Homo sapiens: one gene and its partners. The protein of the gene in region 2 purifies or fractionates together with the protein of the main gene of each other region. This does not show direct contact. Each region holds a gene or a part of one and is shown on either strand. Other genes may lie near its edges.

What was found.
Region 1: the proteins of SYT16 (region 2) and DSG4 purify together in Homo sapiens (affinity purification with mass spectrometry; 2 studies listed by BioGRID and IntAct, with this or other methods). This does not show direct contact.
Region 3: the proteins of SYT16 (region 2) and TKTL2 purify together in Homo sapiens (co-immunoprecipitation; one large-scale study listed by IntAct). This does not show direct contact.

The regions. Positions count from the first base shown.
Region 1 is NC_000018.10:31,400,646-31,404,299, reverse strand, and holds part of DSG4 (desmoglein-4 isoform 2 preproprotein), read right to left. Parts: intron 3,420-3,654; coding exon 3,280-3,419; intron 885-3,279; coding exon 666-884; intron 1-665.
Region 2 is NC_000014.9:61,819,100-61,822,753, forward strand, and holds part of SYT16 (synaptotagmin-16), read left to right. Parts: intron 1-3,654. UniProt on the Homo sapiens protein: May be involved in the trafficking and exocytosis of secretory vesicles in non-neuronal tissues. Is Ca(2+)-independent.
Region 3 is NC_000004.12:163,470,881-163,475,088, forward strand, and holds TKTL2 (transketolase-like protein 2), read right to left. Parts: upstream 2,875-4,208; 5' UTR 2,855-2,874; coding exon 974-2,854; 3' UTR 215-973; downstream 1-214. UniProt on the Homo sapiens protein: Plays an essential role in total transketolase activity and cell proliferation in cancer cells; after transfection with anti-TKTL1 siRNA, total transketolase activity dramatically decreases and proliferation was significantly inhibited in cancer cells.

The DNA of each region.
Region 1 (3,654 bases), on a different chromosome or scaffold from region 2:
CTTCGTGATCTGTTTTTCACTTTACTTTCTTTGGTTTATGCATTCTTTTGTATCTACATACTTTGCATAATTCTAATTTTAATGGCTGTATATTAACACATCTTAATAATATGTACTCTGTTTAATCATTCCTCTAATACTGAGCAATTTGGATTTAAATTTTTACCCTTAAAAATAAGTCTGAACTCATAGTTACTGTAAAAAACAATTTAATTGATTTTATGTGCTCCTAAGTGAGTAGTAAATGTTTAAATGTATCTATGGGATATATGAGTTTCAGAGACATTTATGTGATTTGTCTGAATTTATTCAGAATAGGGAATTGTGACATTCTTAATTTATGAGTTTGTTAAGGGTTCTGTTTATTTTAAACTGAATAAATATTGGTTCAACGTTTTACCTACTCAAAATGATGGGTAAACTGGTATTTATCCACTACTATTTGTAAATTAAATATTAATGAAACATTTTGACTCATTTCATTTCAGTTCAAAATTTTATCAAATATCCTCTGTGTACATGAAATATTTTTTTCATTTAATGTTAATATGGCAAGAACTGTGGAAACAGAAGTAGAATGTTTTATTAAGTGACTTGCCACATTTTTTGGTAATTGTTTTGCTTTTGGACTTAAAGTCCAAAAAACAAGCTTACGTTTCACTTACCATTTGTTGATCTGACATCCCACATGTCAGCTATTCCTGGTGGCTCATCAACAACACAGAAAGTAAACGGAGACCCATAAGAATGTTCATTAACAGAGATAAGGACTGATGGAGAGTCAATGCAGATGGTTCTTCTTTCAGGAAAAATGTTTGGACAATAATCATTGATATCAGGAACCTCAATACATATGGTTCCTGTAGCTGTTTTTCCAGAGCCATCTGAAAGAGTAAGGGTCATTGGTGTTGAGGTAAATGGTGTTAGGGAGAAAACTCTTTCTCATATCCCCTGATGATGCCATGGAACTTGTAGGAAACATATACGTGACTTGGGAGGCTTGACAGGTTCCTGCCCGCTTCAGTGACCCAAAGTCACTCTTCCCTTTGTGTGCTACCTTCCAGCCACACTGCTTCTTTTGAGTTCTTTAAACAAGTTTCTTTTTTACTCTGGACTCTGGCACATTCTTTTCACCCTTCCTAAAATGTTTTCCACCCTCATTTCATTTTGCTAATTCTGACACATCCTAAGGCGCAAAATCAAATGTTCTTCCTCCGAGAAGGTTTACTGGTTTCTAATCTCACCCTGTTCCCATAAATTAGACCCCCAGGTCAGTTATGAACCTCCATTCAGGATGCTCACTGAGTCCTGTGTTTGTAGAAATAACCACAGCTGAAATAAATACTTGTTTGTGTTTTTCTTGTGTGCTCACTGTTTATTTTAATTGCATCTGTTACATGCTATTTCTTTCTGAAATGGCATTTCTGAAAACAAATATAAGTCTATTAGATTTTTCCCTAATCCACTTGAAACAAGTTTTTGGATAGTATAATTAATCAGAAAGGGCCAAAGACTAAAGATTAGGAGTCCAGGAGCTTTTTAGTCCACTTTTCTACTCTATGTTCTGTTACAGCGAATACGGAATTTTTTTTGCTTCTTTTTAACTTGAAAAGAATCTTAGCTTTCTCGCTTTTAAACTAGAACGTTGTCGTCTCTGGGGTACCTTACTAGGTCCTTTTCTGAGAAAGCAATAAATTCCTTTTACAGATGTTTTCTGTGTGCCTAAGTAGTAGTCATTGAGGTAACTGAATGAGAATAAACTGAGAGCCTACCTATAGTCTATATGATTTTGTATAATATGTTTATATACCCTATTCAGCATTGGACTTGTTTTTACTAGATGAAGGATGTCGATTTCACTTAGCTTCTCATTCGAGAGGCATCAGATTATTCCACAGATTGTTTTATTTGTCATTCTTTGATCTTTGGTAGCTCTTCTATTACCTTGTGATTGGCAACCAAAGCTCAAGCTATTGCTTATAGTGTTTGCTTCCCAGTAAAGTTTGCTCTGCATAGAGGTCTGTCTCTTCACCTGATGATGGTGTGTGCTGAAGCAAACTTATTCCAACCATTCAGATAGCTCTGTGCCAGTGCAGACACTCTGCTTAGGTGAATAAACAATCAGCTTTGTTTCTGGGTTTCTCTTGGTACATTTTGACAGCACTTTCTCTCTCTTTATTTGCTTGGAATGACTAATTATTTATTCTAGCATTTGAAGATTTTTCACATATGACCAATATGCAAACATAGGGTGCAATCAACATGGTTAGAATCCATTTTCAAATTAGAGCTTCCAGAATACTGATAATGAATAAGACAATGTTATTTATAAAACTGACCCAGGCGTTAAAATTTACCCGCCACAGGATGAAGCCCAGGATGTACAGATGATAGTTGGTTTGGTTTTATCATGGTTTCTTTTTGAATTTTATGCTGCTTCTTTATCTTTATTTTTGTTTTGATACTGGAAAGGTCAGCTATAAACTCAATGCAAACCTACAGTATCTGTCTTACATTAGGCATGTATCTTGGACGCCTGTCTTTCCCCTTCCTTCGTGGTTCCTGACCTTTGTCTCTTGTTTGGTTCTACAGCAGCTGGTTTCCTAGGCACTGCTTCATAGAATCATTAACTATTGATAAATAAACAAATCCTGTTGCTGCTCACCAAGAGGACTGCTTAACAGATTTACCCATGTGAGAGGTGGCTCGCTTACAAGTTAAGTCAGTGCATCTGTATTTATGACTTTTAATATGGATCTTATATTTGGAATAATCTGTGCTTTCTTGGTCCATAGCATCTTACTATGGAAATATGTCTAATCAAGCAACACTCACACAAGCTTCTCACTGTAGTTCAGTTTTAATGGATCTAAAATAATTGTATTCTTGGAGACATTGCTTTCCCACAAGGTGATCCCCAAATGAACTTTGTAGAGCACGTAGCCCTTACTTTAAGTAAACATTCCCAACATACCCTACAAGTGAGATTAGCCATACTCAAGAGACAAAGTCATAATCAGAAGATGAATTATATTTTAACTTTTATGCTGTAAGCCATATACAACTCAGTTTTGGAAGTAGATGAAATAAACTATGGCTTCAGTGTAAATTATGATTTTAATTGACTTCAATTCTTGATTTAAGGTGTTTAGGGCTTTCCATAAGTCTTGCATACACCATTAAAAATGTCTGAGTCACTCAAATATCAGCATTAGAATAACATAATATTTAATATAATAGTACTAGTTTTCTTAAAATACTGAAAATAAATTTTCTTACCATCTATAGCCAGGATCTCTGCTGTGTATATCCCATTGATAATATATTTTGACTTCTTATCAAATTCTCTAGAAAATTGTATCTCACCAGTTCTTGAATCAATTTTTAACCAGCTGCCTGCATCATGCCCTATGATATATCTGTTTTTAAATAAAAAAGTTCGTTATCATGCTTTTATGAAAGTTAGTACTTTTAAATCATGTAACAGCTACAATGTGGCAAACTTTAATATTGTGTTTTTATGTTTTATAGTGATGATTGCCTTGGTTTATAAAAAGTACATATATATCAATAAAAATTCAATGATATATACATTAATATACAGGTCTGCAAGTTTTAAAATTTCATCATTTTTACTCTTCTGGCTCCTAGGAT
Region 2 (3,654 bases):
CTGAGTTTCTAAATGAATCTAAAATTTGGTCTATATGTTTTATAAAAGAAATGGGACAGACATCTTGGGAGGAATAAACCTTCCCTTCTCCTGAGTATAGTAGATTTGGATGACATTTGTCCTTTTAGATCACTAGGGTATTATTTAGTCATTAACTATTATTTAGCATTATGAATGATAAGATGGCTATTATGCCATTTAACAATTGTCTGTATATTAAGATGATAATCAAACTCACTGACAGTGCTTTCTAGTAGATTGGAGAGGTATCTGAAGTGCATATTACAAAAAAAATTTTATGCACAGCTGTCATCCTTCCATTAAGGATTATACATATCTGATTTTAGGTAGTTTACATTTATGGATGGATATTACCCCTTTAGAATAAAATTTTCTTATTGTGAGAATATAATATTCTTCTGGCGTCTAATTTTAGGAATATAATAAGTCACATTCTATAATTTTACTCACAATGGAGCAAAGATTAAGAGACATAAAATGATTTTACCCACCCTGCATGAAAATGCCCCTGGTTTATATACTTAATTCAAAAGAGCACCATACAGATAACCTACCAATTACAAGGAGGTTTTCAATTGGCTTAGCTCAATAGAAATTGCAAAAGATTGAAGAACTGAGTGTGGTATGGTGGAAGAGAGCACAGGCCTGGTTCCAGAGGTGCCTGAGTCGTGAACTCTGGTCCTGCCACTCAAAGGCTGGGTAAGAGGTAAATTGTTTAACTTCCCGGAGGCTTTGTCTTATTCCACTCTGAGGAATTACAAGGAGTAAAAGAGATGGAACAGAGTTGCTGGCACAACATATGCATTAATAAATGTCTGTCCCTTTACCTGCTACAAGATCCTTCCAATGGCGTGTACCTCCCCATAGGGTGTACCTCATATTATGAGAACAATCTGACTCAGAAACAGGGTGCCTAGTCATTGATTCCATTTTTTGTGTGTGAGGAATATAAAATTAAGAACAAATGATCTGTGTACAAATGTAAGACTAGGGAAGAGAATCTAGGACAAGCACCCAAAGGTGCAGAACTCAGATTTTAAATAGAAGTAATAATCATGTTTTCTTCCCCAATGTTTATTGTTTTGTGCAAGTGTACTTGTACCATGAGCATGTGGATTTGTGAAATGTGCACACACACAACTTGTAGAAACCTTGGGAGAATTCACTGATGGGCTGTGAAAAGGGCTACAACAGCTACCTCTTTGATTTAAGAGGCAAGAGGGTTTTGAGCACTTCTCCGCTGATGTGCATTTGGCGATCTCTCTGGGCTTCGTGGCCTACCCCTCTCAGGAATGACTGATGGATGGCTATAGCACTGGGCGGATATGCTTCAGGGCACCTCTTCAGAGTTTTTTTTTTTTTTTTTTTTTTTTTTTTTTGAGACGTAGTCTCGCTCTGTCGCCCAGGTTGGAGTGCAGTGGCACGATCTCGGCTCACTGCAACCTCCGCCTCCTGGGTTCAAGCGATTCTCCTGCCTCAGCCTCCTGAGTAGCTGGGATTACAAGTGCCTGCCACCATGCCCAGCTAACTTTTGTATTTTTAGAAGAGACAGGGTTTCAGCCTGTTGGCCAGGCTGGTCATGAACTCCTGACCCCAAGTGATCAGCCCGCCTCAGTTTTCAGAGTTGAATGCCCTCCTGGCTCTGAAGTTTTATAAAAGCCCCTTCAATGATGTTGATAAGCCTGAAAAATTTCTGGCTGTTCCATTATTGAGCTTTAAAAAAGCTTAATATGCTAGTAATACTCATACATAAATGACCTTGTCTCCACTGGTGCTGACCTTAGCCATCCAGCCCTTCCTTCTGGGAGTAGCCTTTCTCTGTCTCAGACATCTGCTCTGGGATCCTCCCACTGCCCATGTTGACATTCCCTGTCTCTCTTGCTTCCCAGCTCTTGCTCTAACTCCCCATACCTGCCAATATGCTTTTCCCTTTGGTTTCACTATTCTTGGTATTTTGGCTGAGACACACCAGCTCTATTAGTGTCAGGTTTGCAGAGCCCTCAGCCGCTGGGCTGCCTTCAACAGCCCTCCCCTTCTTCTCCACAAGAAAAAGGTAGAGGATGACCCCTCTCCCTTAACCCCTATCATCCTATTTCTTAGACTTTTTAGAAGTGCATTACAATATCTTTCCTAACTAGCCCAAATCAATTGTTAGATTTTAGTGGTGATAATTAGAATCACAGTCATATTTTCTACAGTGTTTTTTAAATACTCCCCTATATTTGTTATCTATTGCTGCATAACAAATTACCACAAAGCTAGTGGCTTAAAAAAACACTTATCTGTCATTCCACAGCTCTGTAGGTCAGGAGTTTGCTGGCTGCAATCAAGGTGTCAGCTATGGCTGGGCTTTCATCTGAAGGCTTGAGTGGGGCAGATCCACTACTGAGCTCATGGGCATTGACAGGATTCAGACTCTTGCAGGCTGATGGACTGAGGGCCTCAATTTCTTACTGGCTTTAGCTAGAGGCTACCCTCAATTTCCTTCTATGTGAACCTCCCAGTATGGCCTCTTGCTTCATCAAAGCCAGCAAGGGAGAAAGTCTGCTAGTAATAGAATCATGCAAGTGACATTCCATCACCTTTGCTGTATTCTCTTGGCTAGTAGCAAGTCATAGGTTCCTTCTTAACTCAAAAGGAAGGGATTAAACAAGGATGTGAGTACTAGGAGATGAGGATAATCATAAACCATCTTAGAGTCTGTCTGCTATACTCCCCATGAAACTTTTATATCTACTTCTTCAATTAGATTTTTATTTGGAGTATTACATTTCCTCTTTAAGACTTTAGATATCATTGGGATGGTGTACTAGTCAGGGTTCTCCAGAGGGACAGAGCCAATAGGATATATCTATAAAAATGGATTTATTAGGGGAGAATTGGCTAACACGATCACAAAGGTAAAGTCCCAGCATAGGTCATGAGCAAGCTGCAGAACCAGAGAAGCCAGTGGCATGGCTGTCAGAGAGCCTGGTAGCATGGCTCAGTCCAATTCCGAAAGCCTCAAAACTGGGGAAGCCAACAGTACAGCTCCCAGTCTGAGGTCAAAAGACTGAGAGCCTCTAGGAGCTTGCTGGTACAAGTCCAACAATCCAAAAGCTGAAGAACCTGGAGTCTCACGTCCAAGGGCAGGAGGAGAAAGTCCTGCTCTGGCAGGGAGAGACAGAGCAGAGGGTGGATCCCCCATCTTTTCCCACACTCCTTCTTTGTCCTCGTGGGGCCACCAGCCAACTGGATGGTGCCTATCCATATTGAGGGTTGGTCTGCTTCTCTTAGGCCACTGACTCCTGCATCATTCTTCTCTGGAAACACCCTCACAGACACATCCAGAAACACTGCTCACCAGCCATCTAGGCATCCTTCAATCCAGTCAAGTTGACACCTACTGTTAACCATTGCAGGTGGTAAAGCCTGAAATAACTGCCTCCGTCAGAGAAGAAATTGTTCTCTTCTTTCCAACCTGAGAGCTGTTGCACTGTAGAAACAATGGCGCTGGAAGGGTAATTTTTGGTGTTTGAGCTGCTATTGGGGAAGTCCATCTGAATAAGAGGCTGCTGTGGTGAGCTCTGAAGAAGCAGAAGGCAGTATGCTTTGTGAATTTTATGCAAATGTTACAGATTTATAAAAATGAAA
Region 3 (4,208 bases), on a different chromosome or scaffold from region 2:
ACACACTGACAGCCAAAAGTCAGGAGTCTGCTTAAGGGATGGCTTTTTAGTCCATACAATCTTCTCTAGTAACTTATCTCCAGCTTCAACCTTTTTCCAGGTTTGCTTCTGGGGGTCATGACTCTCTCTGTTTCTTATTTAGACACAAGTTCTCCTTATTTAGGATTTCATCAGGAAGAAATCAAATCCCACATACACAGCACAGACTGAAGTATCTGATTTTTAAATGCTTTATTACATTAACTTTAGTATCATTAGCAGATGAATATAATCAGATTAACAAACTGGTTTGGCCACAAGGAAAAGAAAAAACATTTCTGAAGCTTCACAAAACTATGTGTGTAGTGTGCAAACTAGAACCAGTTATACTTTCATCACTTCACAGAACACAAGTAGTGTGGTGCATCAAGAGATGTTCCACTGCTGCACCATCACCTCCAAACTGTAGAGGAGAGATGAAGGCAAACTTTGGAGGAATTTCCAAGGCAACTGCAGTCAAACATTATCTGTAAAACTGCAGGTATAAATGGCATTATACAAAAGCTCAAACATCCTTCAAAACTTGGACTATTGAAGTCTACAATTAAATTTCAATTTTTTTAACTTACAAGGAAATCATACTCATTTAAGATACAGTTACCTCTACTTTAATCCCCAGCTCAGTCAGATATTTGTAGTCTTATCAGAAATATTTGTATTAGGTAGTTGTTTTATTTCCTATTCTATTGCTTACAATTTTAAAATCCACATTAATAACTCAGAGTAACATTTATACATAGATTAACAGAAAGGTAAACTTTAATTTCCAAATTAGGAATGAAGAAAGATGTTAAATGGCTTTGCTTTAAAAGAAACAGTACAACTGTATAGGTATAAATAATGGTTTTGTGACAATAAACATGAATTTAATACAAAGATACCAGTGCTTTTGGGCCAAAGCCAATAGACTTGACTTTTTAGAAATAAGCCTAGTTTACTTCATTAAAGTAAGTGTTACGGCTGCTATAATGTGTCTGGTACTGATTCCAAACATATCCAGCAATTCACTAGTTTTCCCACGTTGAGGCACTCCTGACACTGCCAGTTGATGAACAAGGATATCAGGCTCCCTGGAGACAGCTGCACAAACAGCTTCTCCAATGCCACCTTCCCTGTAGTGATCCTCCACTGTGATAACTCGGCCGCCTGTGGCTTTTGCACTGGAGATGATGGTGGCGGCATCCAGGGGTTTAATGGTAAATGGGTCGATGACACGGACAGAAATACCTTGTTGAGAAAGATGGTCAGCAGCTTCTAAGGCTTCATGGAGAGTAACTCCAGCTCCAATTACTGTGACTTTATCATTGACACCGTGGCGGACCACCTTGGCCTGGCCAATCTCAAAATTTTCTTGTGGGGTATAAATAACTGCAGTTTCTGGTTGGCTGGTTCGAATGAAGCACATTCCCTTGGTATTGGCGGCTAGATAAATAGCATGCTCTGTCGAGATGGCATCACTTGGATAGAAAACAGTACAATTGGGAATGCTTCGGAACATGGCTAGATCCTCCAGGGCCATCTGGGAGACTCCATCTTCTCCAGTGGATACCCCACAGTGGGAACCAATAAGGTTGATATTGGCTTGAGAAATGGCTCCCATTCGGAGCTGATCGAATGCTCTAGTAAAAAAGGCAGCAAAAGCACCAGCAAAAGCAATGGTTCGACCACGTGTAGCACAGCCTAGTGCCACACTTACCATGTTTTGTTCAGCAATAATACACTCTATGAAACGCTCAGGGTGTTCTTTCCTGAATATCTCAGAAAAGGTGGAGTTCATCGTGTCACCACTCAGAACAATAACTCTTTCATTTGCACGGCCCAGTTTAGCCAGAGCCAAACCATATGTTTTCTGAGTAGCTATCTTGTCACCAACTTTGTAAGCAGGTGGGGAGGTCATTTTTATATCTGTGATGCTTATTTGAGGTGAGTCTTCCACAGGCGATTTTGGTATGAGATTCTCATTGGTCTGTATCTGACTCTCAATTAATTTGACAATTGCATCTGCTCTTTCTTTTGGCACTGGCTTTCCATGCCAATTTTCTGCATCCTCAATATTTGGAATACCCCGACCTTTGAAGGTCTTGGCAACTATAGCAGTAGGCTTGTTCTTCACTTGACTTGCTTGCCAAAATGCTTGGCACAAGGCCTCCACATCATGGCCATCCACTAAGTAAGTATTCCATCCAAAGGCTTCACAGCAATTCTGGTAGATGTCTGCGCCATGCTCAAGGGGTGCAGGGCCACTTTGTCCCAAGCGGTTCACGTCGAAGACCGCCACGAGATTGTCCAAGTTGTAGTGGGAGGCAAAAGCAAAAGCCTCCCACACAGAGCCTTCTGAGGATTCGCCATCTCCCATAAGGCAGAACACCCGGTAGCTGGCCTTGTCAAGGTACTTGCCAGTATAAGCCATTCCACATGCAGTACCTAATCCCTGACCTAGGGACCCTGTTGCCACGTCAACAAACGGCAATCGGGGGGTAGGGTGTCTCTCCAAGTCGCTGTGAAGTTTCCTCAGGTTCAGCAAGTCAGATTCACTGATGTCACCCACCTCCACCCAAGCAGCATAGAGGATAGGAGCAGCATGTCCCCTGGAGAGGATGAACCGGTCGTTGTCCGGGTGTTCTGGGTCTGTCTGTTTATACTTCATCGTGTGGAAGAAGAGGACAGACACGACCTCCGCTGCACTGCAGCACGACGTGAGCTGGCCAGAACCAGAGGCACACGTGGCCCTGATGGAATGGATCCGCAGGCGGTTGGCTGTGTCCCGCAGCACCTGCACGGTCTTCACGTCGGGCTTGGCGTCGTTGGCCATCATCTCTCTTTTGTCGGTTTGGCAAAGCAAACGGCGCCGCAGCACCCCCACAACCCACCGCGGCAGTGCTCTCACGTGACCGCCCCGCCCTCGCCTCCCCTCTGCCTGAAGGCCTGAGCTCAGCCACCAGCCGGGGCGCCCACAACGGAGCTTCCCGCGAGACTGAGGAAACGGAAACGTTGGAGTAGCCTGCACCCTCTGATGTGCACCGTTCCCTCTCCCTGTCCACGCCCAGCTGAATGGATTTTTAGTATTTACTTTGTCACGTGCATGTTCAACATTAGGAAGCATAATTAAATTTTTTACCTTTCCCTGTGTTATAAATTCAAGACTAGACATTTTTCTGTGTATTATAGGAAGCGATTTGTCAGGCTGTGCTTTTTTAATGCATTAACACTATATCCGAGTCATCACTCTTTCATATCAGAACATTAATAGAAAGGATACAAAGTCACTTTCAATCTGACCAGTATGGCAATGCTATCTCAACAGAGACTTTCTCAGAGCAACCAAATATCTGAATCTCAGACTTATAGAAAGAAATGCAATGACTAATTTGACCAAAATTTATAGGAAGAACAAATCTGAAACCACCCAATTGCAGAATAGAATTGCAACTCCAGTGTGCCGTAAAGTACTATTTCTGTGTTGAAATAATTAGAAGGCCAGTAGGCTGAGGTAGCTTCAGCTCCATGAGTTCCTACCTAAGGAAAGGAAACCCAAATCAGTGTAAATGATAAAAAGGAAATTTAAGCTTAATCAATCAGAAACTGCCAGCTAACTTCTAACTGGGGACTTTCCACTGGGATGACCCAAATAAGTCTAGTACTCCACTTTAACCAATCAAATATCTTTCCTTTGCTTCCAAATTCACCCTATAAAAGCCTTCTCCTTGGCTCCTTTATCAGGAGCTACCAGATTCATGAATCACTGAATGGTCAAATAAATGCTTTAATATTTTAATGTGCCTCAGTTTATCTTTTAATGACTATTACTACAAATCATTTTTAAGACAAAGTTACTTACTTTAAAAAACTAAATTTGTGGGCCGGGTGCTGTGGCTCACACCTGTAATCCCAGCACTTTGGGAGGCCGAGGCAGGCGGATCACAAGGTCAGGAGTTCGAGACCATCCTGGCTAACACGGTGAAACCCCGTGTCTACTAAAAATACAAAAAAATTAGCTGGGCGTGGTGATGGGCACCTGTAGTCCCAGCTACTCGGGAGGCTGAGGCAGGAGAATGGCGTGAACCTGGGAGGTGGAGCTTGCAGTGAGCCCAGATTGTGCCACTGCACTCCAGCCTGGGAGACAGAGCGAGACTCCGTCTAAAACAAAAAAAACTAAATTTGTGCCATTG